Homo sapiens: one gene and its partners. The protein of the gene in region 4 interacts with the protein of the main gene of each other region in a pairwise test. Each region holds a gene or a part of one and is shown on either strand. Other genes may lie near its edges.

Evidence for each region.
Region 1: the proteins of OTUD7B (region 4) and CCDC50 interact in binary tests that used the Homo sapiens proteins (3 or more experiments, as listed by UniProt).
Region 2: the proteins of OTUD7B (region 4) and KIF1B interact in binary tests that used the Homo sapiens proteins (3 or more experiments, as listed by UniProt).
Region 3: the proteins of OTUD7B (region 4) and A2M interact in binary tests that used the Homo sapiens proteins (3 or more experiments, as listed by UniProt).

The regions. Positions count from the first base shown.
Region 1 is NC_000003.12:191,353,392-191,360,419, reverse strand, and holds part of CCDC50 (coiled-coil domain-containing protein 50 long isoform), read right to left. Parts: intron 3,333-7,028; coding exon 3,270-3,332; intron 2,423-3,269; coding exon 2,296-2,422; intron 1-2,295.
Region 2 is NC_000001.11:10,290,549-10,297,576, forward strand, and holds part of KIF1B (kinesin-like protein KIF1B), read left to right. Parts: intron 1-533; coding exon 534-613; intron 614-1,498; coding exon 1,499-1,574; intron 1,575-4,537; coding exon 4,538-4,617; intron 4,618-5,111; coding exon 5,112-5,218; intron 5,219-6,033; coding exon 6,034-6,117; intron 6,118-6,348; coding exon 6,349-6,529; intron 6,530-6,625; coding exon 6,626-6,698; intron 6,699-7,028. UniProt on the Homo sapiens protein: Has a plus-end-directed microtubule motor activity and functions as a motor for transport of vesicles and organelles along microtubules.
Region 3 is NC_000012.12:9,070,897-9,077,924, reverse strand, and holds part of A2M (alpha-2-macroglobulin isoform a precursor), read left to right. Parts: intron 1-67; coding exon 68-224; intron 225-504; coding exon 505-579; intron 580-988; coding exon 989-1,169; intron 1,170-3,141; coding exon 3,142-3,365; intron 3,366-5,053; coding exon 5,054-5,272; intron 5,273-5,438; coding exon 5,439-5,566; intron 5,567-7,028. UniProt on the Homo sapiens protein: Is able to inhibit all four classes of proteinases by a unique 'trapping' mechanism. This protein has a peptide stretch, called the 'bait region' which contains specific cleavage sites for different proteinases.
Region 4 is NC_000001.11:149,965,712-149,972,739, forward strand, and holds part of OTUD7B (OTU domain-containing protein 7B), read right to left. Parts: intron 5,541-7,028; coding exon 5,352-5,540; intron 1,811-5,351; coding exon 1,583-1,810; intron 168-1,582; coding exon 66-167; intron 1-65. UniProt on the Homo sapiens protein: Negative regulator of the non-canonical NF-kappa-B pathway that acts by mediating deubiquitination of TRAF3, an inhibitor of the NF-kappa-B pathway, thereby acting as a negative regulator of B-cell responses.

The DNA of each region.
Region 1 (7,028 bases), on a different chromosome or scaffold from region 4:
ACATTGGATGTGATAATAAGTGGGAAGAAAGTAGAAGCACCGTAGAGAAGGCAAACCCAAATGAAGTGTTAAAGGTCACAAGTGACACAGAAGATGTATCTCCTGGTACAGAAAATAAATAAGTGAAGCTTCATCTGAGTTTAATGATTTCAAACCATATTTCCAAGAAGTACCATCTCTGGTTCAGTCAGCTAATTATACAGACTCCTGGGAAAGCGAAACTGAGAAAGCAGTAGTAAACAAGCGGTAATCCTGACTTACGGCAGCCCGGGTATCCAGACTGAATAAAAGGTTCCAGTTCAATGAAAACTGCAGCATTTCATCCTTCCCAAGATGTACAGCTATTAAAATTGCCAGGGAGTGAACTGAAAGACTTCCCTTCTAGCTTACTTATTTCATCCAGGAACAATTTCAAAACCTTGAAGTCTCAGGCAGAAATATAATACCCGGTTCTTCTCTCCTTTAGGACCTATAAAATATCACTCTCTACTCCTGATTTATATTTGAGTGGTTTGTCTTGATAATTTCTGAAAAAGCTCATTATACTGTTATTAACCTAATTCAGGATTTTAAACATCTGCATCAACCTCAGAACTGGCCTTTCTAACAGAGAATTGTGAATAATGTAAAGGGCAATGAATTTAGAACTCTAGAACATTCTAGCTTTGGTTCTCACCTTAACCTGTGACACTGAGCCTCATAACATCTCAAATATCTCTCCTCCTCTTTACATCTCCATTACCATGACCTTCAATTTAGGCCTCATCATCTCCTTCCTCTCTGTCACCACTGTCCTCATTCAAGCCTCACCATCTCTTAATTTGACCATTGCTCAACAGCTGCCTTCAAATCTTGCCCACTCCAAGCCTTTACCCACCTAGTCTACAGAATAGATCCCAAAATGAAAATCTGAAACTACTTCAAAGGTTCTCCATTCCTTATAATTTAAAATCTACAAAACCTGAAATCTTTAACATAACTTATCGTGACCCTTTTGATCCAGCTTTTGACTACTTTCCTGGCCTCACTTCCTACTTCTGCCTGTAAATACACTCTCCACTCCAGCAACACTGAACTTCTTGCAGCTAACGTGAGATTGATTCCAAGTCCTCTTACCTCCTGCCCTTATGCATGCTGCTCCTTCTGGCTAGAATGGTTTTCCCCATCACTATAAACTTCTAATTAACCTTCAAGTTTCAGATTAAACACATCGTCTTGTGAAGCTTTTCCCAGTCTCTTCTCTCTAAATAGGCCTGAAATTTACATTTCAATTCTCTGTGACTCATGCACGTATCTCTAGATACACAATGCTCAAGGTGTTTTCCTGAGGCCCTTAAAGGCAACAGCTGTCTTATTCATATCTCTGGTCTCCTTTCATGGTGCCAGATTTAGCATGAATCAATAAAAGTGTTTATTTACAAAATAAGGGAAGCTTAACAAAATGATTAATAAAGTCCTCTCTACAAATAATAAACAGAAAGACAAACCCTTCCTATAAGTTAGCAAAAATGACTGGCTTTCCTTTTTACCTGAATATGACACTGAAGTAAATTAAGGGGTTCCTTCCATTTTTCCTTTACCCCTTCCTCCTCAACACAGTATCTGTGGTTAAATCTACCCACATTAAAGATTTAGGATGTAAGAGCCACTCTCAAAGAAGAAATGTATCCTGGGAGCTTTATAACACTGAAACAGAATAAAAGTCACTGTGCCAAAAGAAACCTGAGAAATAATCATTTCCGTTTATCTGTGTGTTAAAGGAGGCTACTAGAGAGAACTTTTGTCAGACACTGAAGTTATGAAAAAAACTGAGTCTACACTTCAGAGCTTTTCAGAACATTCTGCTATGTACTGAAAAGCAAGGAAAGTAAGAGCGGCAAACACAGCTAGAACATAGTAAAGGAACCAATACAACCCATAAAGTTATTTGATGTCCACTATTTCACTGGATCCCCCAAAGAAACTATGAGGCAGAGGGGACAGAGATTATTATCCGCATGTTATGGGTAAGGAAAATAAATTCAGAGAAGTTGACTAACTGGCCCAAGGTCATAACAGCTAAAAAATGTTAAAATTCACACCATCATCAACATGTCCTTAAACCTGGTCAAGTGCTCCAACAAAAACAAAACATTTTCAAATCAAAAAAACTGTTAGACATCCAGGGTAAGATTTGTAATCTAACAGTAGAAGGAATCAGAGGAACAGAAGTAGTCTCCTTCTCCCCTGCCCTGGTTGCTAGCTCCACAGAGAAAACCAGTCTTGCATCACCCCTCCCACCTCCCAAATCCTCACAGGTCTTTGTAGCGCTTCTGGAGCTGGGCCTGCGCTTTCAGATCTTCCTCTTGGAGCTGCTTAGCCACCTGGAGATCATGCTGGACCAAACGGTTCCGCTGAACGTTCGATGCCAAATGATGCTCAACTGGAACAAAAAGATTGAGGACAGGAATGAATAATGTCTTGGTTTGTTAGTAATAAATGCCATAATAATCTTAAGAGCTTTACCATAACAACAGCTTTGCATCCATCACTTCATTTTATTGTCTCAACAACAATATATAATAAAGAGCAAGGAATTATTATCCCCACTTTTCCATTAAGTAAAAAGAGGATCAAAAAGATTAAATAATTTGCCTTTGGTCACACGGCAACAAAGTGGCAGTGCCAGGACATCTACACAAATATTCTAAAGCCAGGGCCAATGCTCTTTCTACTACTACATGTTGTCACTCTATTTATTAACCGCATTTTTCAAAATGTCAATTTTATATTGATATGTGAATTCACAAATCATATATTCACAAGTATGTACTTTAATATAACATGCATAGCTTAGATTTACTTTTCATCACCACATGGAAAAAAAGATTCAGAAAAATTCACAATGTGATCTCATTTATACCACAGTTGCCTGGGAAAACTGTTCAAGTCCCTATCCTAGGAGCAAGAATAGATTCCTTCTACGCACCCCAGATAAATCTACAACCATTGTGTCCCTCCTACAACAAGAGGCTAGGAAAAAGGTTCAAACCTCTCTTTTTCCTCCTACAGACGCAGCAGTCTACTAATTCCTGGCAGCCTATCTTACTTAACATGCCCGAAACTTCACTGATCACCCAGGCATCATTTGCCTAAAGAAATCCTTCAGGATGTATGGATGGTGAAGCCAAGTGACTGTGCTCTCTCCCCACCTAAGCCCTAAGAAACCAGCCTCAAGCTACCACTAAAAAAAGAAAACTGAAGGAGCATAAATGAGAGGTATTACTCACTCTCTTGTTCCTGCAGGCTGTGAGCCAGGGTGTGGTCCTCCAGGACAGCAAAATCTCGGCATACTAGAGTAGATGGAGGAAAAACAGACAGGAAGGCTCATTAGTAATACTTTAACATACAAAGGAAAGGATTTTTTTTTTTTACTTTAAAAAAAATCAATTCTAATATTTCAGAATGACACACTTTATAATTCTCAATGCATAAAATAGTGACTAGTTAAGTATGCAGTCTTTAGTCACAAAAATCTATAGTGCCTGCTTAGTGCCAAGCACAGGGTGTCACAAAATACTGGTTAGCCTTGGCCCCTGGCCTGAGGTGAGAACATTTACAGAATCAGATTCCAGAGGTCTAGAAATTCCAATCCACTTCTATAAATGGAGGGTTAAGTGCTGCTGAAATAACAGACGTATCAGTCATGCTTTGCATATTGCTACTGAGAGAGAACTGAGTTACTGCATAATTAGAGGTGTTAAAAGAAATCTAATCTATGCTTCCCTGTGGTTCAGACGATCCTCTCCCAGCAATTTATGTCTACCCTGGCGTCTTTCAAGAAAAAATATATTTTCACTAGTCCCTCAGGTAGGGGCAGAGCTCTACTTTAAAAATTCTTAATTTCTTAAACATTCTTCAGTGGGTCAATCCCCAGGGACATGAGTTAGAACTAGGTCTCTAGGTCCCTCTAAACCTTGGGCTGCCCCAAAATAATCTACAAACCAAAAGAAAATGGGAACCCTGAAGGAAACCAGGAATCTGCCCCAACTCTGCCTCCACCTGAAGAGCCAGGCAAGGGCATTTCCTGACCTGTCTTCTCAGAAGCAAAATGGGAAGAAATGGTCTTGAAGAAATGGTTTGGGGTAAACAATGGTATCCATGTTTACCCCAAGCTGCAATTTAAACTCCTGCTTCGTAAACATACAAACAGACAAAACATGAAGGATTCATCATGTAAAGTGCTGTTTTAAGGACGTGTAGTTTAGGTGATATGTTCTCACTCTATTCCAAGCATGTAATTCATGTTAAAAAAAGGAAATTCCCCAAAGCCTCAGATTACTGCAATTGAGTAGGACTCATGAAACATTCCCCAGGGCTTAGGAAAAGTGATAGATTTCTTTCCGAAGCTTTGGATTTGCCTATGAGGACACTTAACTGAAACAGAATGAAAAACGTTCCTTTGCCGTTCTTTGCACTTATGTATGTTCACATATACACTCAACATTAGTTGTGTCCTTCACGACTGAGGGATAATGCCACAAAAAGGGAGGGAGATCTTGGGGAGGTCAAGATTATTTTGAAATGGTTTTATAATGGAGGAATAATTCTTGCCCAAGAACTATATTCAACTGGATACAACCTGCTTAATCCTCGCTCAAACATAACAGCAAAACCAGTAATTCGAACAGAAAGCCCTGTTCTTTTTCATCAGCTTTTCATATTCTCAACCGATTCTAATATCTTGAAGCCCAGGTCCTAGTTACCTTATGTTTCACAGAATAAAAGTAGTTTCAAGATGAGCTAGATAACACCCTCATTTAATAAGTGAGGAAACTGAAAGCCAGAAGGAAGAAGGGGTTTTCTAAGGCTGTACAGAGTTCACTGGTGACAGGGCTTGGGGGTCAACATCTAAGCCAGCAAGAGCTCAAGAGCTCCTTCCCCTTCCCTGACACAATGATGGCCCTCCTTCCCTCCAGGTAAATCATGGTAAGAATAGACAGAAAGAAAATATTCTACATTAACCATCGCATATTCTCTAAAACACTTCAATTAATTAATATCTAATTTTTAAATGGGTAAGACATACACGGACTTAATTTACAAAAATTAATGAATTAGCTAAAATAAATATAATCAAATCTTGTGTAAAGAATGTTATTTTAATGTATTGACCTATCATTTAAAACACCTTTATTATACTGGAAAAGCTTGTGCTTATATATTAAAAGTCAGTCTTAATTTTAGATTAATTATGATTAGATCAAATTTAAGATTACTCTTAATGATTTTCAAATTATGGGTGGCAATCTATTATTAGGTCAAAAAATCAATTTACTAAGCCTGAGAAAGGCATTTTAAAAGTCAATAGTCTAGAGAATAACAGAGGACAGTTGGCTCTCATAGCCCTGAGTTTTGGATTCATGGATTAAATCAACCACAAATAAAAAATATTCAGGAAAAAAAAATGTGGCTGTACTGAATACATACAGACATTTTTTCTTATCATTGTTTCCTAAATGAACGGTATTAGGTAGTATAAGTAATCTACAGACAATGTGAAGTATACAGTAGAATATGTATGAATTATATGCAAATACTACCCCATTTTATATTAGGGGCTGAAGTATCCATAGATTTTTAGTATCCATGTGAGGTCTTGGAACCACCTCTACACCCCACCCCACAAATACGAAGGGACTAGTATAAATCACACACAGTACAGGAAACTAGTTTGGGGAAACTTTTCCCGTATTATATATAAACATCACAGAAATATATACATACAGAGATGATAGGTACTAGGTCAAAATGTAAAACACACATCATTCTATAGATTACAAAAAGCTTAAAAGCCACTTCAATTTATGTTATTAGGTCAGAACGTTACGCCAAAAATATGTTTTCTATGTTTCTAATACCATGCTAACTAAAATTAAAAATTATGAAATTATTACATTTTTCCATGTGGAGAATCATGTGAAGAACTACAATAATTTTAAAAATATTTCTTAACTTCAGTCAGCAGAACATTAAACATTAAAATATAGTTTGTAGATAGATATACCTATGGTTAAAAAAAATTTTTTTAATAATATGGCACTGACACAAACTTAACTCCAAACAGTAGTTCTCTCTCCAGAGAGACGAAGAGGGGCATGAGTGCCTTAGCTGCATGAGCCATTCTGCTTCAAAAGCAAAAAGAGAAAAGATACACAATAAGGCAAAATATTAACATTTGATGTGGGTGGTAGGTTCATGGGTTTTTCTATTTCCTGTGCTTTTTAAATGTCTTACATATTACATTTTAAGTTCTATAATTAAATTCACTTATTTCATGTTGTCAACAGCACATATTGCTAAACCATGAACATGAAGATATGGTTTGACACATTATAACAGGTGTGAGAAATTTCCGAATTGCTGATTACCTTGATGACTCCTCATAATGATTTCTTACTATCTCAACAGCAAGACTGAAGTATATTCTATTATTGCAATTTGTCCCTGAATCTGCAGAAGCTGAACTAGTACCCAAAAGATATGAGGAGGGCCTGAGCTAGAAGGGGATCTGGAAGATTTTCAATGATTATGAGGAAGTACATGAACACATACACACAGAGAGTTGTATTGTCAAATACACTGACTTTGCCCTTCGGAGGTTACTAGGAGTTTCCAAACATATAATCTCATTTATACTGAAATATTACTTGCCCAATATATAATTTCTTCTGAACCCACTCTAATTTTTTTCAAGATTTGCCTCTGTATTCCCTCCATCAGTATTCTAGCACAACCTGGAAAACAATCACATATTCAGTCAACTTTGTAAATCAGTAACCAGATTGAGAATTACTGAAACTATTTCACAGCCAGGCCACGCTCAGAGCATGAAGAGAACTTTTCTCCTTTTCTAACCTCCTCTGCCTTCGATGTAAACAGCATAAACAGCCTACTGAGGATAAACGGCATACACTCATCTTCCCACCTTTCTCTGTGGGCACATTTAAGGTGAACCACCTTTCACCCTCCCATTTCTCAAACTTTTT
Region 2 (7,028 bases), about 140 Mb from region 4:
TCGGCTCGCTGCAAGCTCTGCCTCCCGGGTTCATGCCATTCTCCTTCCTCAGCCTCCTGAGTAGCTGGGATTACAGGCGCCTGCCACCATGCCCACGTGGATCACGAGGTCAAGAGCTTGAGACCATCCTGGCCAACATGGTGAAACCCCGTCTCTACTAAAAATACAAAAATTAACTGGGCGTGGTGGCACGTGCCTGTAGTCCCAGCTGCTCGGGAGGCTGAGGCAGGAGAATCACTTGATCCCCAGAGGTGAGGTTGCAGTGATCTGAGATCGCGCCACTGCAGCCTGGTGACAAAGGAAGACTCCGTCTCAAAAAAAAAAAAGACTTGGAGGATTTATTTGTTTGGGGTTGATTTAGTTTTAGGTCTAATCTTTATGATTCTTATCTTATGTATTAATAAAAGAAAAATCTCTTTACATTTAATTCTGGCCTGTATCCTCAAAGGGCATGATTTGCTTCTTGCTTTTCTAGCATGGTATGTTAAATTATAAGACTCTTTGCCTCTTTAACTGTGCGCTTCCTTCCTTAGGAATCAGAGAAGATCATTGCTGAGTTGAATGAAACTTGGGAAGAGAAGCTTCGTAAAACAGAGGCCATCAGAATGGAGAGGTCAGGAGGTTAAAATCTGGAAATGTTTCTAAGTTTTCTAGGGGATGTGGATTACTTTATCGTAAGAAAAGATAAAATATAAATTAAAATCAAAGAGTCTGCCCTTCTAAAACACAAAACGAAACCAAAAAAATGGACAGGGATTTATGGCCAGTTGAATTTATGCTTTGAAATGACATCTACATATTTAAATATTATCTAGGGAGTCACAGGTTTATTAGTTACCATATTACATGTTGCTAGGGATTCATAAAAATGGAACATATTGGCCAGGCGCGGTGGCTCACGCCTGTAATGCCAGCACTTTGGGAGGCTGAGGTGGGCAGATCACGAGGTCGGGAGATCGAGACCATCCTGGCTAGCATGGTGAAACCCCATCTCTACTAAAAATACAAAACAAATTAGCCGGGCATGGTGGTGGGCACCTGTAGTCCCAGCTACTCGGGAGGCTGAGGCAGGAGAATGGCGTGAACCTGGGAGGCAGAGTTTGCAGTGAGCCGAGATGGTGCCACTGCACTGCAGCCTGGGTGACAGCAAGACTCTGTCTCAAAAAAAAAAAAAAGGAATAGCCTCTTCTTTTCTTTTTTATATTAATATGCATATCATTTATGAATTATTGACTATCCCAAAGTCAGTTGAGACAAAGTTCTTATCTCAGTGAATATAACTTTAACAAAGCAAGATTTCATTGATTTTGAATGTGATGTTGCTTTTAGAAATAACTTCTCATTAATGATGAGATAAGCACATTATTTTATGTTTGCATTATTGGCTATAAACATGGCCAGTTGTTTTTGCTTTGCAGGCTTTATTTTCCAATTCATATTAGACTGATTTAATTGACATTTTGGTATTAGTGTTCTGATATACCTGTTTTTTTCCTAGAGAGGCTTTGTTGGCTGAGATGGGAGTTGCCATTCGGGAAGATGGAGGAACCCTAGGGGTTTTCTCACCTAAAAAGGTAGGAAACAATGCTGTGAAACCTAATCAGACAGAGACACTTTTTGTTTGTCTTTGTTACTGGGGCACTTCATGTCTTTCAGGACCTACTCTCCCCCTTATTATCTTGATACTTGCCTTAATTTCAGATATTTCTGATTTCATCTTAGAGCATGGTCTTATAGTACAAAGGCAGCCTATTTCTAAAATGCCTATCTTGTTTACTGTTTACAAAAGAAAAAACCTAAGGCAATATGTAACCTTTGGCCATGATTCAGTTTGTTTAGTCATCTTTATTTGTTGCTTTCTCTTAAATTCCCAGCCTAACCTAGCGTACTTTCAGTTTTGGCTACTCTTTCATGTAGATTTTCCCACAGAAGTCGTCTACCCTGCTTTATAACTTTTTGGAACCAATTTCAGCTGTACAGGTTTGTGGAGAATAATACTGCTTCCATTTGCTTCTGCAATTTGTATTATAGACAGCCATTGTACTAAGTAAAGCAATTCCTGTCCCTATCCTTCTAGACTCCTCTGCTTCCTTCTTCATTTTTTAAAAAGTGTCTCCAATAGTTACCTTCCTTTTTACATAATCATAGTTATGAAGTAGTTACGTAGCTTTTAGCTAATTAGAGTAGTAAGGGTTTTTTTGTTTTTTTCTTAAACTAAGTTGCAACGTCTTGTTGGATACTAGAAAATGACTATCAAATGGTTATTTTGTGTGCTTATGTATCAGAAAATAGGAGAACATATATCGATGTACAAAGCATGTATTTTATGCCACTAGTAAATTGTCCTTTATTTCAAGTGACCTCACATTGGCTATTGGAGACTTAAACATCTTTATTCATAGGTTCTGTTGATGATCTCTCTAAGTTAGGATACAAGGGGTGGTGAGTTTTGAATTGGTACTTTTATGTGATATGAAATATTCCTGTGGTTTTCGCTACAATTCTTCTGGTCAGGTTTTTCTATCCTGGCCACATAACTTTTTTTTTTTTTTCTTCCCAAATTCCAATGTGTTATTTTCAACAGAAAAGACTGATGTAAAGACATTTTAGATGCATATTGTAGAATAGAACAGTTAAGTATTTTATATGTTTATATTATGAAAGGTTAGTGGTTTTCACAGTTTTAATAGTTTTTCCTTCAGTAAGACATGTATTCATTCAGATATGTTACTTAGGATTATATAGATTTTAGCAGTTACAGTTTTGGTGGAATTTAATTGTGCCTATGCATATGTCTAATAAAGGTATTTTATAACATCTTACAGTATTAAAGACTGTGAGGAAATTTTTTTTTTTTTTTTTTTTTGAGACAGAGTCTCACTCTGTCGCCAGGCTGGACTGCAGTGGTGTGATCTTGGCTCACTGCAACCTCCGCCTCCCGGGTTCAAGTGATTCTCCTGCCTCAGCCTCCCAAGTAGCTGGACTGCAGGCACATGCCACCACGCCCAGCTAAGTTTTGTATTTTTAGTAGAGACGGTTTCACCATGTTGGCCAAGGGTGGTCTTGATCTCTTGACTTTGTGATCCACCCACTTCAGCCTCTCGAAGTGCTGGGATTACAGGCATGAGCCACTGTGCCTGGCTGGAAAATTTTTATTATAACAACTAGTGAAAATATTATGCATTTAACATAAATCATAAATAACTTGAACAAATGTTGAGATGTACACTGCATGGAATTCCAAAGTGAGATCTCTGCTTCCAAAGCTTTTTCTTACTTTAATTTTACCCATCTTGCTTTAGCTTTCTAGACTTCTTCATGAAAGGAAGGGATATACCAGTGACCACATCCAAACTCAGTCTTAGGACCTGTTTCTGAGATTCCATTTTTCAAATTATGATGTGCTTTAAAGAATGCTACTCACAAAGGGCTTTGACTTTCTCAAACCAGTCAAGTTCTTCAACTACAAAGGGGGATGCTAGTTGAGAAGATGTGGAGGTTTTTCAGATTTCTCTTTAACCATCTTTTATAGTTCCTTTTCCTACCCCCTCATCTGACTCTTCTTTCATTCTTCCACATTTGCTGGCACTCTCTTGAGTAGATTTTGGCCTCAAGACCATGTGACTTATTTTTGGATTCCAGTGGGTTATTTTCACTAAAGAAGGTTGGTTTTTTAAAAAGATTTTAGAAATATTAGAGTTAGATGAAGAGGATTGTTAGAAGATGTTTATCTTATCGAATATCAGTAATTTTACTTTTTTCTTTAAGGTAAAGACTAATAAATTAAAATCTTTTAAGGTAAAGACAAATTAATAACTGGGATCAGAAGAACTGATAAAAATTATAGTGGGAAGTGGTGGGGGGGTATGGGGACATTTTAATAAAAGTAAATATTTCTTGAGATTTTTACCCAGGCATTTACAAAAATTATAATTATTCCGTTCAGAGAATTGGCCTGTCATTTTTTCCTTGTGCTTTGACCTTATCAAAAATTAGGTCTTGTTTTTTTATCCCAGAACTCATGTTTTAAAATGGAATGCCAGGCACAGTGGCTCACTCCTATAGTCCCAACACTTTGGGAGGCCAAGGAGGGTGGGTCAGTTGAGGTCAGTAGTTCGAGACCAGCCTGGCCAACATGGTGAAACCCTGCCTCCACTAAAAATAGAAAAATTAGCCAGGCGTGGTGGCGAACACCTGTAATCCCAGCTACTTGAGAGGCTGAGGCAGGAGAATCACTTGAACCTGGAAGGCAGAGGTTGCAGTGAGTCAAAATCATGCCGCTGTACTCTAGACAGAGCGAGACTCTGTCTCAAATTAATTAATTAATTAAAATAAAATAGAATGCACTTGGTTCCGTTTGGTGAGGCCTGAAGAGAGTGTTTTCTCTTTATTATGGAACCGCAACTAGGGATAAAAAGAAATCCCTCTCTAGGCTCTGTGGAGAGTTGGAGAAGCCTGGCCTCTTGTAGGCCCCTGTTGTTACCACAGCTCTCTCATGGTGCCCTGCTCCAAATTGATCATCTGTAATCTTTTTCAGACCCCACATCTTGTTAACCTCAATGAAGACCCACTAATGTCTGAGTGCCTACTTTATTACATCAAAGATGGAATTACAAGGTATATTTATTTCCTGTTTTGGTCACTTCGTGTGTTTTCCCCCTCTTAGATAATTGAATAACTAAAGGGAAGGGGTTGAAAAAATTAACGTAATGATTTGCTGTATTTTTTGTCTGAAATAGTTACAAACTATGCTCTCTTTCCAAATAATGTGTTTTTGCCACTGGAGCCAGTTACTATGTAGTTTTTCTCTGAAGACCCTAAATAATTTTTTTTTCCTTTAACAAATATACATTCCTTAGGGATTTTATTTGACTCATGTCTTTATAATACTGTATGAGTTACATTGGTATATCAGTGCTCCTTGTTTCTTATTCTGATGTAGAGAGGTTGATCATATGTGAGGATAGAATTCATAGTTGAAAGCTTCTGATGCAACAAGGCAATACCTTTTTTGTACGTACCAAAGGATATTCTTTGGAATAAAGAGGTTCATTGTTTGTAGTGCTTTCTGTGTCTGAATTTCCCTGGGAAACACTTTCTCTTGTGTTCAGGGTTGGCCAAGCAGATGCTGAGCGGCGCCAGGACATAGTGCTGAGCGGGGCTCACATTAAAGAAGAGCATTGTATCTTCCGGAGTGAGAGAAGCAACAGCGGGGAAGGTGAGCATTCCTGGCTGGAGCTTCAGCAACAACATTTTCATTTTATATTATGAGAAATCCTTAAGACTTTGTATTCTCTGTCTATCAGTAGTACTTTCTTATACAATCTAATTCTGAAAAATGGAGAGACCTGGGCTGCTTATGAATGCAGAGATGGACAAGGCTGCTTTACATGAAAATAGCTTGGACAAAAGAAGCCCTTTTTTACTGCCAAGAACTGAGAAGGACATAGGCAATTAGGCTTGGTCTGGAATGTTAATTATTTAATAGAAAAGTAAGAAAATAGCAGATATCCTGGGTAATAGGAGATTTGAAGGACATTAAGTCAACCCAGCAGAATTTATTTTTATCTAAAAGGGAAGAAAAAGTCAGTCTTGATTTTTGCCTGGGTTATTAACAAAACAACAATTTAATGGTTTTTTTCTGTTATATAAGTCACTCATTCCCTTATCAAAATATTAGCTTCTCAGTCTTTAGTTTCTGGTTATTACCTATATCTCATCCTTACAATTTCTGATGGTTCTGAGTTTTATTGACTGAACCGTCAGAGATCCCTGAAACTAATATTTCCTATCATCTTCTTAGGTTTATCAAATAGAGTTAAATGTTCTTGTGTTAGCCATGGCCACAGATAGCCTCTTCTATTGGGGCTAGTTCTGGTACCCCAAAATGAACTACTGTATAGACAACTTCAGCCACTTGATTGATTGCAGGGATTTATTCTACTTACTGCAAATCCTGATAAGCAACTGCTTTCCATTATTTGATTCCAATAGTTTGTAATGATAACATTAGTTTGTGTTTGTTCCTCTTAGTTATCGTGACCTTAGAGCCCTGTGAGCGCTCAGAAACCTACGTAAATGGCAAGAGGGTGTCCCAGCCTGTTCAGCTGCGCTCAGGTGAGACTGGGAGAGGTTTGCCATCTTCAGCAATGTGCACATGGCTTCTGTGACAACTCTAATTTTTGGCTGTTTAAAGGCTGAAGTAATAGTCAGCATTAGGATTTTTGTTCTTGTAAAAACAACAGCTCTGAAAGCTGTCTTTTCACATTAGGGAGGGGTGAGGTTGTTAAATAGATACTATATATTAAAAAAATTATTTCTTAACCCTATTTTTCTGTTTTGTGCTAGGAAACCGTATCATCATGGGTAAAAACCATGTTTTCCGCTTTAACCACCCGGAACAAGCACGAGCTGAGCGAGAGAAGACTCCTTCTGCTGAGACCCCCTCTGAGCCTGTGGACTGGACATTTGCCCAGAGGGAGCTTCTGGAAAAACAAGGAATTGATATGAAACAAGAGATGGAGAAAAGGTAATGCACAGTTACGCAGCCCATATGACTGTTTCTTCTTTTAAACATGTAATACTAATAGCATTCTTGAATTTTTTTTTTTTTTTTTACTTCTAGGCTACAGGAAATGGAGATCTTATACAAAAAGGAGAAGGAAGAAGCAGATCTTCTTTTGGAGCAGCAGAGACTGGTAGGAGTCCTGAATCTGCTAAACTGTTGGGAAAAGGGCAGCTTGTTCCCATACTTTCCCTGTTCCACAGAGCAGTACTCACCCAAATTGCTTCTGTCTCAATGATACCAAGCACTATTCTTTAATTTCCTTAATGGAGAATGAACTTAAATCTCCCGGTAGCCTTAGCCTGAAAAAATAGTCCACAGAGGTACTCTTTTGGGCTTTTTATGTCTTAAAGCCAAATCTTAACTTCTGTTACAACCAAATACTTTTTAAGGAAATAGAGCTTTTCTGGTAGCCTTTGCCTCTTGATAGTGGTTTTGGAATTTGCTTCAGTGGTGGTTCTTT
Region 3 (7,028 bases), on a different chromosome or scaffold from region 4:
TTGCTGTGAAGTGGTTATAAAACCATTTTGACAACATAAACATCATGATTGCTTCCTCCCTGGTCAGGCTCACAGCCTTTGTTCTGAAGACTTTTGCCCAAGCTCGAGCCTACATCTTCATCGATGAAGCACACATTACCCAAGCCCTCATATGGCTCTCCCAGAGGCAGAAGGACAATGGCTGTTTCAGGAGCTCTGGGTCACTGCTCAACAATGCCATAAAGGTGAATCATTCTGGAGCTAGTTTTGATTTGTCCATTATGATATCTGCAAGGATGAGGATAGGAAGTGATAATGTGAAAAATTCTAAGGGAAAGCCTCAGAGGAAAATAAAACCTGGATGGCACCAAAAAAGAGGGGATAGAACAAAAGTTGATTGTGATACTTTGCCCTATAGGGATGGATATGGGTAAGGATGAATTCCATGACACAGCAGAATAGAAAGAACTAATCAATAGCATTCTCAGAAGTTGAATTATTCAGATCTCTCTCTCGTATTCACAGGGAGGAGTAGAAGATGAAGTGACCCTCTCCGCCTATATCACCATCGCCCTTCTGGAGATTCCTCTCACAGTCACTGTAGGTACCACCCCATTCCTCTGCTGAAGGAGAGTTCTGGATGCAATGAAACTGCTGACCTGCTGTCTGAAATACTATCCTATTAAAAGCAAAGCATCAGCTTTCTTTCTATGCAATGCCAGTGCTTCCCAGATCTACAGAGAATTTGGTCAGCCCATTAAGAAAGGTTTAAATTTTCCCAGTAATTCCCCTAGGCTATTTACCACCACCACTCAAAAAAGAATCTTAAAGATGTATCTTTTGAATGTGAGAATAACAGATAAAAATAATATTATATCTATTGATAAGAATGAGGAATCGTTGGAAAAATGCGTTTGAAAAACTTCTGTGCTGTGATCCGTGTATTTGCCTGGGAATGCTAATATGCCTGTTTACATAGCTTAGTTCCCTTCTTGTTCTGCCTTCACAGCACCCTGTTGTCCGCAATGCCCTGTTTTGCCTGGAGTCAGCCTGGAAGACAGCACAAGAAGGGGACCATGGCAGCCATGTATATACCAAAGCACTGCTGGCCTATGCTTTTGCCCTGGCAGGTAACCAGGACAAGAGGAAGGAAGTACTCAAGTCACTTAATGAGGAAGCTGTGAAGAAAGGTGAGAGCACACCTGAGATCCTTCTCCTGGCCCATCCTCTGTATCAAGAACTGCATGGCAAAAATCCCTCACTCCTACCTCCTGTGATCCCTGTCTCCTCTCTTCTTTTCTATATATCATATATATTTTGTCCATATTGCATCTTATAAAATCTAGGATTTCTTAATCAAATCAGAAATCAGAAGACAAGAGGCCGTGCAGATGCTTCTCAATTACGATGGGGTTATATCCTGACAAACTCATTGTAAAGTCTAAAAAATCTTAAGTGGGACCATTGTAAGTCAGGGACCATCTCTATAGTATGCTGGTAAGAAGAGCATTCTCTGGAGACTAGCTCCAAAATGTGCTACCTATGTGAGCTTGGGAAAGTCATTAACTTCCTTGTGTTTCAGTTCCTTCATCAGTAAAATGGGGATAATAATAGTATTTACCTCACAGAGCTGTTGTAATAAATGAATTGGTACACGTAAAACACTTAGTAGAGTACATGTCACATAGCAAATCCTATAAAAGTACTAGTTATTACAATTAACATATCAGTTCTCAATATATGCCCAACCCTTACCTGGTACATTATATAACCTTAAACATAAGAAAATAATCATGGAAGTAACTCCTTGAATGAATTCTGGTATTTTAAGCCCATTTCATAAGACCAATAATGTTGACCAATCTACTCATATTCACACAGTACTTCTACATATACCATGGTCTATATGAGCGGTTGAAGAAATAGAAAATAAAATGCAAATCACAAGATGTCCATTAAAACAGTCTACCTTTTTCCTTTGACAGCCATTAATTCTTCTTAAAATGTATTGAGAAATATTTTATAATAGATATACAAAAGGGCATAAGCTATAACTAGAAAACACTGTACAACTCTCTCATAGATTAAGAAATAGAAAATTACCGACATGGGAAAAATAAATCCCTTGTGTATCACTACCACCTCCAGAGGCAATCATTATCCTGAATTTGTCGTTACAATTCCATGGATTTCCTTATATTTTTGCTGCATATGTATCCCTAACTAATATTTAGAATCTTCACATGTGTTTCATCTTGAGAGAAACAAGATTTTTATTTCTCTCTTATTCAAGAAACAAGAGAAACATTTTTGAATATTTCAGCAGCTTAGTTTTTTGTTTGTCTGCTTTTTATTTTCTAAGTTCAACACTATGTTGATGAAGACCCCTATACAAGTATGTGCAGAGTCAGCTCATTAATTTTCACTGCTGCATAATATATTACAGTCTATAAATTAGTCATAATTTACACATCGAGTTTCTCCTCATGGATTTTTTTTATGTTTTGCTATTAAAAAAAATGCTGCAATGAATACTCATGTGCCTGTTTTCTTGTGCATCTGTGTTTCTCCAAATTATGCTTTGAGAAGCATAATGACTGATTAGTGGGCTAAGCACATCTTCCCCATTGCTGAATATTGCCAAAGAGCAGTTGGCTTCCCACAGCAGTGTATATTGGTTCCCATTGTTTCACATCCATGTCAGCCTTTGGTATTTCAAGGATTACTGTATTTTTTTTTTCAATTTAATGAGTAGAAACTCTACTATTTCATGTGATCTGTGATCCTCACAAGAAACTGATAAAGACACACTTTATAGGAAATGTAACAAACTCCAGCTATAGTCTAATATAACATCATAAATAGGAAATAGCCAGACTCAATGAGACAACTGCTGTGCCATTTCTTTCTCCCACCAACCCGACTATAGCAACGATTTGAAAACATAGATAGGCATAGGCTTCTGACTCCAGCATCAATATCTGCCTTAGCTGGGCTAAAACACACCAAATTCAGATTTACATGAAGGGAAAAGCATCTACATACAGTACAGGGGATTATAATGGGCATGCAATTCTCATTTCAGCACTGGCTTGGGTACTTTCACCTTGAATTAAATATAAATATGTAGGCACTTATAAATATCTTTTTCTCATCTTTAAGACAACTCTGTCCATTGGGAGCGCCCTCAGAAACCCAAGGCACCAGTGGGGCATTTTTACGAACCCCAGGCTCCCTCTGCTGAGGTGGAGATGACATCCTATGTGCTCCTCGCTTATCTCACGGCCCAGCCAGCCCCAACCTCGGAGGACCTGACCTCTGCAACCAACATCGTGAAGTGGATCACGAAGCAGCAGAATGCCCAGGGCGGTTTCTCCTCCACCCAGGTTGGTGATTTGCCAAAACCTTTTATTTCACCTTCAGGTAGCAAAAGATTTGAATGAAAAAGAAACAAACACATCCAAGAAGAAAAAAATACAGATGACAGTAACTTGAAATGAGGAAAAGTTTTCAGTATCCAAGGATAATGGAAATAAAAGCAAATCAAAGTCAAAGAGGGCCAAAAGGAAATGCTCAGAATCCCGGCACCCCATCGCTGTGTTATTATCCATCTCCTATTTCCCATAACAACACTGCCTTCCTCAAGCAGCAGTGGAGCACCAGCAGAATGAAGGAGATGTCTCCTGCCATTCTCCTGAAAGCTCTAGGGTCTCTTTCAAACTGTTCAAAGGAACTCTACTCAAAATCCAACAACCTCTCCTCGCAAATCTCTCCATTCTTAGGTCCCCTTTAATAGGCTTTTCTCAAAACTACACATTTTGTGCTTCCCCTATTCACCTTTTTTTTTTTTTTTTTTTTAAGACAGAGTCTTGCTCTGTCACCTAGGCTGGAATGCAGTGGTGCAATCTCGGCTCACTGCAACCTCCATCTCCCAGGTTCAAGCGATTCTAGTGCCTCAGCCTCCCAAGTATCTAGGATTACAGTCATGTGCAATCATGCCTGGCTAATTTTTGTATTTTTAGTAGAGACGAGGTTTTGCCATGTTGCCCAGGCTGATCTCGAAGTCCTGAGCTCAGGCAATCCATCCGCCTTGGCCTCACAAAGTGCTAGGATTATAGGTGTGAGCCACTGCGTCCAGCCCCCTATTCACCTCTTAATACACAAACATTTATTCATCAGGAGCATAAAGAACTGTCTTTATTCATCCAACCTCCTAAATCTAGCTATATAACCATGTATCTGAACAATTCATTGATATGTACACAGCAGAAAGTTTTATCTTCAGAGAATTCGGATGTTTGCTTATATACCCTAAAACGGAAAAAATGTGACAAAATGGCATTCCATCCTATTTCCATTGTATTAATCTTTTATCATATGAATGAAAAAAACTAAGTAATTTTGTTAAAGGTTATCATTCATTTATTAGAAACATATTATTTGAAGGAGGCCAAGCAGGTTTAATGTTGTTGAGGATACATACCAGCAGACATTCACTGGGAACAGGAAATCATCCAATAAAAAGGGAAAGCCAAATAAAAATGTCATTAAATCCAGAAGATAATTATAATACTCATCTTTTATTTCTTTTGGAGAAACTGAAGCATGACTCTGCTCATGGCTGCAAAGAACCTTGGGTTCTCTCCAGGACACTGACCTCAGCAACTGAGCAAAGTTTAATATGGGAGAGAGCCAGACTGAACTTTGCTTGAGTGGTGGCAGATATGAGCATAGTTGTCAAGAAAGACATGTTAGCAAATAGCTGATGCCAATAACTGATTGCCATTCACATGTTTTCCACATTCCATGTCCCACATATACTTACAGAGAGAAAAGGATCAATTTTCTGATAAATAAAATAAACATGTAGGGCATACAGTCCAAGGTAGATATGTGAATGTTATGGTTCTTCAACTATCTAAAGATTATAATCAATCTTGAAATTACAGCTCCTATATTTAAGTAGTGAGGGAAGTAGGAAATCAAAGTCCCTCACATGGGTCTTTGAAAAATATCTCAGCCCTCAAAGCCTTATAATGCCCAATGGGTTCTCTCACTCATCTGTCTCTAACAGGACACAGTGGTGGCTCTCCATGCTCTGTCCAAATATGGAGCAGCCACATTTACCAGGACTGGGAAGGCTGCACAGGTGACTATCCAGTCTTCAGGGACATTTTCCAGCAAATTCCAAGTGGACAACAACAACCGCCTGTTACTGCAGCAGGTCTCATTGCCAGAGCTGCCTGGGGAATACAGCATGAAAGTGACAGGAGAAGGATGTGTCTACCTCCAGGTGAGACTCTTGGGCAGGTGAGGACAGGACAGATGAGGACAGCAGCTGTTCTCTCTGAGAAGTCCTAACTCAGAAAACAATGGGACAGATCAGAGAAAGGGTTAGGGACGTGGACAGGAATTCTGGGAAAGGGCAAAAAACTGATTTTGTCTTTGATGTTCTATAGACATCCTTGAAATACAATATTCTCCCAGAAAAGGAAGAGTTCCCCTTTGCTTTAGGAGTGCAGACTCTGCCTCAAACTTGTGATGAACCCAAAGCCCACACCAGCTTCCAAATCTCCCTAAGTGTCAGGTAAGACCTTCTGACTCTATCACCTAATCCTAAGAATAACCACCAGTCTTCTTTCGGGAACTCCTCTTTAAGTAAAGCAGTGCAACAGTAGATATTTGCACTATTCACAAAAAATGCAATGTATTCTCTTAAGTTGATATAATTTCTCAATGATGGGGTTTACATTGTCCATCCAGGATCTACTATTGTGCAACCTCATTGTTTAAAGGGTAATAATTTCCCTCAATAACAACTAAGTAAATATTACCCATTGCCTCTGACCTGAATTCCTTGTTATGTAATGAAATCCTATATTATTCTTGCTTTATTGAAGATAGAGATGAAGAATTATTGAAAAGTTTGAATAGAAGGAAGTAGTGACTCCTTAGTTAGAATTCCTACTGGCAATAATAAATCTCAGGTTATATATGATATAATTAATTTGGGGGGAAGATACACTTATATGCATCAATATTTAAATAGCTGCAGATCTGATAAAAAACTCTCTCTCCACAAACATATTATTACTTGGTTGGAGATACTATTCAGGAAAAAAGTTAGGACAAAATACATGTAACAAATAACTGGCACACATCAAAAAGAATGAGATCATGACCTTTGCAGGAACATGGATGGAGATGGAGGTCATTATCCTTGGCAAACTAGCACAGGAATGGAAAACCAAACACTGCATGTTCTCATTTGTAAGTGGGAGCTAAATGATGAGAACATATGGACACAAAAAGGAGAACAACAGACACCAGAGCCTACTTGAGGGTTAAGGATGGGAGGAGGGAGAAGATCAGAAAAAAACAACAATTCAGTGCAAAATTTAGTACCCAAGTGATAAAGTAATCTGTACACCAAACCCCCATGACACGAGTTTACCTATATAACAAACCTGCATGTGTACGCCTGAACCTAAAAGTTAAGTATATATATATATATTTTTTTCATTTAATTTGGTGTATATATATGCCAAAAAATAAATTAAGCAGTCCAAATTTCGGATGCAAACTCTCGGGGACAAGACGCTAGGTGTTTCTAAGTGTTTTGTTGAAAGCCAGTGTTTAAGTAAACATTATAAATTATTGTTGTTTTTGTAAATAATGTAGACTGAAATTTATTATTCATAATATACATCATTTTGTCAGCTGAAAGAAAATAAAAGTAAACAAATAAATAAAATAACTGGCATAGATTAGAGGTCACAAACAGCCTGTGCATCACTTGTAGAGCTTTCTTAAAATGCAGATCCTCAGCCGGGCGTGGTGGCTCACGCCTGTAATCTCAGCACTTTGGGAGGCCAAGGCGGGCAGATTACCTTAGGTCGGGAGTTCAAGACCAGCCTGACCAACATGGAGAAACCCCGTCTGTACTAAAAATACAAAATTAGTCGGACGTGGTGGTGCATGCCTGTAATCCCAGCTACTCGGGAGGCTGAGGCAGGAGAATCACTTGAACCCAGGAGGCGGAGGTTGCG
Region 4 (7,028 bases):
CACATGAGATTTGACTCAACTGCTTCCTTTCTGCAGGTGAATGGAGGACTGCTTTCAAGACTCACCAAGGGAGGCTGCATGCAGGAGGCAGTTCCCATCTCCAGTAGTTGCCAAAGGAAGCAGCCTCTGAGAGGTGGGATCCACACTCACCCACCAGTTCAAACGCCCTGTAGAAACAAGATAGTGGAGGAAAAGGAGATTATCCATGAAGCCCTTCCACCTTCCTATTTCTGAAACAGACTCCAAAGCAGCCTCCTCTAGGAGGCCTACCCAGAATAAAACCATCACTTGATTACTCTTTATATCTTCCTCACTTATATCTAGTCAGTCAGAATCTTGTGAGCACAATTGGTTAGATCAGTGAGTAGGGTCAATTTTGTCCCAAAGGGACACTGGCAATGACTGAAGATATGTTTGCATGTCACAACTGGTAGCAGGATGCTACTGGTATCTAATGGGTAGAGGCCAGGGATGCTGCTAACCATGATATAATGCACAAGGCAGCTTGCAAAACAAAGAATTATCTAGACCAAAATGTCAATAGTGCCAAGGTTGAGAAACCCTGGGTTAAATGACGAGGCCAAGGACATAAGTTGAAACTGTTGACTGCTTGGACTGGCCCTGATTCCTTCCCTCCACTCAGGAGACCAGTATGTATCACAGCAACAAAGCTCAGCAAAAATCCATCATGAACAAAACAAAAACAACTCAAAGCATGTATTTAAGGTGTTTTATGAGTATCATCTGCATATATGACAGCATGTCATCACGTGTGGGGTGTGACTTTAAAGGAATGAGCAATAAGATAAAGTACATAAAATATCCAAGAAAATAAGTCTTAATTCCATGCAGTCATCCCACAATTGCCAACCCATTATTTACATGAGGAAAATATCTTATGAGTGATGCATAAGTTTTCTTGAACTACTGTGGAGCATAGTTTTTGAACTACTGAATGAAAAACTGGCTTATAAACTCCCCAGACCAGATAATTTACCAACTTAAAAAAAAATTACAAATAGATGTATATGGTTAATATAGAAGGTTACAAAATGAAAAATAAAAGCTTCCTTTCCATGCCCTCATCTAACTCCAGTTCTTATCCCACACAAGCATTTTAATGCCTGATTAGCTTTTCCAAAATTCCCAGCTGCCTCACCCTATGATAAGAATTAATTTTAACAATAATTTAAGATAAACACAATTACAAACGTAAATACATTTGGGGGGATAGGTTCACTACTGTGCATCATCTACAGCATTGGTCATTTCTGTTCACAAGGGTGTTCCAGGGCCAATTATAATTAGTTGTATTTTTTTCATGTATTGATTTCGAGGTATTGATTCCTAGGCCTTTTCACATGTGTATCTGGTTTCTCTTCCATCAACCAGGAAATTCCCAGAGTAAAGTATCTAATCTGTATCCATTCTTTGACAGCACAAGTTTATCCCACTGACTCCTGACTTTGCAATCAGATAACACACTTAAACTGGAAGCTAGCGATCAAGTCCAGCCCCTCCACAAGGCTGCCTGTAGGTGGAGAGTAGAGGGAAGAGTGTGGGAGAGGAAGCACTCACTGACCTGCCTGTTCCAAGGCAACCAGCATGGACTGCTCAATGAGGTCTCTCTCTATGAAGCTGCGGAAGTCTTCATTGTATACAGTGAGATCTGGAAGCTGGAAGGCACAGATGGGCATTTCCAGGGGGTGCTCATTGCTCCCCCCACCCCCACCATTGGAGGAGACATGGGACCGGGCCAGGGAAACAATGCTGGAGCTGGCGTGGGAGATGCCCCTAGACAGGCGTTTTTCTGCAATGAGAAATGGAGTCACCTTAGAACATACACAGCCCACTTGGAGAACTCTACACTGATGTGGTGATAGTTACCTCTCAACAGGGTTTACAGTCAGAGAAAAACTAAGTCTAACTGACTACTGAATTTCAGAACCCTTTTTCTGAAGCCAAATACAATTGGAGAAATAGAGACAGTATTTTTGTAGGCACTCACATTAGCACCAAATTATTCATTCCTCTTTCTGCCCTTGTTTGGAATTTGCCTGATCTTCCCCTCCCTCTGACTGTCTTCCTCCACTTCCATATTTCCCAGTGTGATAGGGACCCATTCATTTAGCAATTTGGTCATTGTTTGGTGGGAGGAGAGGGAATAAGGGAAGTGAGGTTTCACTAGACTAGAGTTAGTCAAATAACCTCTCTGGTAATTCTCAGGGTCTTGGGAAATACCTTTTCTAAAGGGTATTTTCATTCTAGAAAGATTATAAAAGAAATCCATTATAGAAAAGAAAATCCTTTGGGAGGCCAAGGCAGGTGGATCACCTGAGGTCAGGTGTTCAAGAGCAGCCTGACCAACGTGGTGAAACACTGTCTCTACTAAAAATACAAAAATTAGCCGGGCATGGTGGTGTGCCCCTATAATCCCAGCTACTCGGGAGGCTGAGGTGGGAGAATTGCTTGAACCTGGGAGGCGGAGGCTGCAGTGAGCCAAGATTGTGCCACTGCACTCCTGCCTGACAACAGAGCAAGACCCCGTTTCAAAAAAAAAAAAAAAAGACAATCAACAACAAATCTTACACATTTGGGAACTTTCTTCCTACATCAATAACATTAATTTATATTGCTTACTACAACTACTCTCAATACCCATATTTATCAGAAATTTATAGGGACAGTCAATTCTTAACAGTCTATAGAGAACAATAATGTAGATAGTACCCCACATCATTTCATTTGTTTTGAATACATGACACTTGTAATTCCCAAGCAGATATTCCACTGTGATTATAATTTGCTCAATGTAGTATTACAGTTCATTTGTATGGCTTCAATTATGTAATGATTTAATGATGATCCAAAGGGGGCAAAATTTCAAAAGCATGTTGGGCTGTTCTTAATACAACATTTGCCAGATATGATACACAAAATAAACTGAGTTGTCTAAAGTTATCTTATAGTGATGTTATTTTTCAAATATTTTTTAGTTTTGTTTGTTTTTGTTCTTTGAGACAGAGTCTCGCTCTGTCGCTCAGGCTGGAGTGCAGTGCTGCAGTCTCGGCTCACTGCAACCTCTGCCTCCCAGGTTCAAGGGATTCTCCTGCCTCAGCCTTCTGAGTAGCTAGGATTACAGGCACACGCCACCACACCCAGCTAATTTTTTTTTTTATTTTAGCAGAGACGGGGTTTCTCCACATTGGTCAGGCTGTTCTCCTCAAACTCCTGGCCTCAGGTGATCTGCCAGCCTTGGCCTCCCAAAGTGCTGGGATTACAGGCGTGAGCCACCACACCCACCTTAAAAATATTTTTTAGGTATTCGTAGGCTGAGCATGGTGGCTCACACCTGTAATCCCAAAACTTTGGGAAGCCAAGGTAGAAGGATCACTTGAGCCCAGGAATTCGAGACCACCTGGGCAACAGAGTGAGACCTAATTTCTACAAAGAATCAAAAATTTAGCTAGGTGAGGTGGTGCGTGCCCATGCTCCCAGCTACTTGGGAGGCTGAGGCAGTAGGATCCCTTGAGCCTAGGAGGTTTAGGCTGTAGTGAGCTGTGTTCCACCAGCCTCACTCCAGCCTTGGAGGACAGAGCAAGACCCTGCCTCAAAAACAGTACCATGTGCCTATGGTAAAAAATCAATATACCATCAAAAGGTATAAAATGATTTCACAAGGAAGTCTTCTTATCATTCAAAATTCCTGATCCCTTCCCCAGAGGCAAACTTTTGTATCCTTCTAGAAATTTTTATGCATACAGAAGCATATACAGGTTTTGGCCGGGCACGATGGCTCACGCCTGTAATCCCAACACTTTGGGAGGCCGAGGCAGGTGGATCACAAGGTCAGGAGATCGACACCATCCTGGCTAATACGGTGAAACCCCATCTCCACTAAAAATGCATGTACAGCTTTTAAAATCATCTTTTAAAACGCAAATGAGAGTATACTACATACATTGCATTGTGTCTTACCTTTTTGAAAAAAATTATATATTTTTTTATATGGAGTCTCACTCCGTCACCCAGGCTGGAGAGCAGTGGTGCAATCTAAGAGGTTTACTACAACCTCTGCCTCCTGGGCTTAAGCAAGTCTCCTGCCTCAGCCTCCCAAGTAGCTGGGATTACAGGTGTGCACCACCATGCCCAGCTAATTTTTGTAATTTTAGCAGAGACAGGGTTTCACCATGTAGGCCAGGCTGGTCTCGAACTCCTGACCTCAGGTGATCCACCAGCCTTGGTCTCCAAAAGTGCTGGGATTACAGGTGTGAGCCATCATGCCCAGCCCCCTTCTGAATAGATTTTAGAAATTTTTCCAAAACAGTACACCAAGTTCTGCCTAATTCTTTCTAATGATTGCAGAGTATTCCACAACATGGATGATTACAATTTACTTAACCATTCCTTTACTAATGGACATTAAATGTTTTCAGGGCCAGGTGCAGTGGCTCACACCTGTAATCCCAGCACTTTGGGGGGCCAAGTCAGATGGATTGCCTCAAGAAAAAAAAAAAGTTTCAAGATTTAATTATTGTAAAATAATGCTGCTGTGAATATCCTTATATGCTGCATTTATGTATTTCTTTTTTTAATTTTTATTCATTTATTTATTTTTTTTTTTGTAGACAGAGTCTCACTGTGTCACCCAGGCTGGAGTGCAGTGGTGTAATCTCAGTTCACTGCAACCTCCACCTCCCAAGTTCAAGCAATTCTCCTGCCTCAGCCTCCCAAGTAGCTGGGATTATAGGCATGTACCACCACGCCCAGCTAATGTTTGTATTTTTAATAGAGATGGGGTTTTACCATGTTGGCCAGACTGGTCTCGAACTCCTGACCTCAGGTGATCCACCCACCTCGACCTCCCAAAGTGCTGGGATTACAGGTGTGAGCCACTGCACCTGGCCTTATGTATTTATTTAGAGAATACTTATGTGCACATACACATATATGATAAATTGCTAGATATGAAATTGCTAAGTCAGAGTACATATGCATTTTAATTTTGATAGATATTGGCAAATATTAACAAATTACCCCCCAAAGAGGTAATGACTCTTTCAATTCTACCTTTATGTGAACTTTATATCAACAAGGAGATTGTTATCCTCCTTCCTCTATTTCTTTCACAGTATCTGAGGAAGGCTTTTATACAGGATAACACTAAAGATGCAGAGACGCAGTGAGGGACTGCAGCACCTGGGCAGACTGAGGCCACCTCAGTCTGGGTTTGGCTGGGAGAAGGGGAAGAAATGGAATCACCTCCAATGGATCACTAGACTTTATGACTCCATTTAACAATCCCCTCCCTTCCTACTCCATATACGGAAACATTCCAGTCACCCCAGTACCTTGAACGATGTCATCCTGCCGCTGGAGGATGGGTCGGGGAGGGCGAGTAGGCTCTCTGTCAGAAAACCCTTTTTCAGGGGTCCTGGAGCCACCACTCCCCTCACTAAAGGATGGGGGTAGGTTTCCAGCATGGACTTGACGTAGCTGTTCAAAATCACTGAGGGCGGCATTCACATCCCAATTCTTTCCTGTCAGGAGACAAAGCAAAAAGCAAACTGTGCAACCATAGTATAGAGACACAAAGATCACACTAACTATCCTATCAAAACCAGTATGCAAATACGCATGCACATAATCATTCTTCTTTTCCTTACCCTGCTTTAATTTTCTTTATAACACTTCAATCTAACTTATCAAATGTCTTTACTTACTTATTTGTTGTCTATTTCCTAAGTAAGTGCCATGAAAATAGAAACTTTGTCCCTCTGAACTAAAAGAGCCCTTAAAGATCTAGTAACCGAAAATTAAAACTTCCTTTTACAGATAAAGTCTAGAGAAGTAAATTATTTGCCCAAAGTCACAGCTAGTTCACACCAGACCCAGCAGGACTCAGGCCCAGGTCTCCTAATTCTGAGATCCAAAGAGGTTCTTAGCCTACATGTACTCTAGTGTGTCCTAAACCACTAAACCTGCATATAAGATCATGGGCTTGTGCATTTTCTAGTGAAAGAGTTCATAGCTGTCATCAGCTTTTCAAAGGAAACAGTGTTTCCCCCAAATTTAAGAATCACCATTCTACTAAAGAAATGACCTTAAATGATAAGATTTGTCATAATGGATTTTTCTGATGCTTTCTCCAGCTAAATTATTCAACAAATATGCATTGTATAATTGCTCACATTTCTTTCTGTTGTATTCCATCTACTACCACCTTAATTCAATTCCTATCACCTACTGTCCTACCTCCGATCCATTCCAAAGAATCCCATGAGATTAATCTTTCTAAAGCACAGTTGTGATCATTTTAGTTCCATAATCGAGATTTTTAATGGCTTACCACTGCCTACAGAATAAAACTCAGGCTCTTTGGCTTGATACTCAAGGCTTTGTATGTCCTGGCCTACTTTTCTGGCCTCTTCTCTGTGCTTCAATTTCCTTATCCGTGAAAATGCAGATGATAGTAGCAGTGCCTACCTCATAGAGCTGTTATGAAGATTAGATGAGTTGAAAGCACTTAGAATAGTGGTTGGTTTTACTCACAATTTTACGTCTAAATCATTACTGATGATTTTACTTCTAAATCATTACATTAGCCAATTGTTCTGACTCCCTTTGCTCACTCTGTTCCAGTCATCACTGACCTTGCTGTTCCTAGAACATGCTAAGTCCACTCTCACTCTAGGGCCTTTCCACTGACTATTCCCTCTACCTAGAAGGCTCTTTCCCCAATATATCCACACAGACAACTCCTCATTAGCTTTAGGTATTTGCTTAAACATCACATTGTTAGTAAGGCCTACCCTGACTTAAAAATCACAACCCACTTCATCATTCCCTTTACTCTTCTCCATAGCACTTAACAGTTTATAATATACTTTATAATTTACTTAGTTATCACATTTGTTGTTTATTGACCCTCTCTCCTGCTAGAACATGAAGGCAGGTATTTTTGTTTGTTTTGTTTTGTTGGAGCATCTAGAACAGTACCTGGCACACAGTAGTCACTCAATAAATAT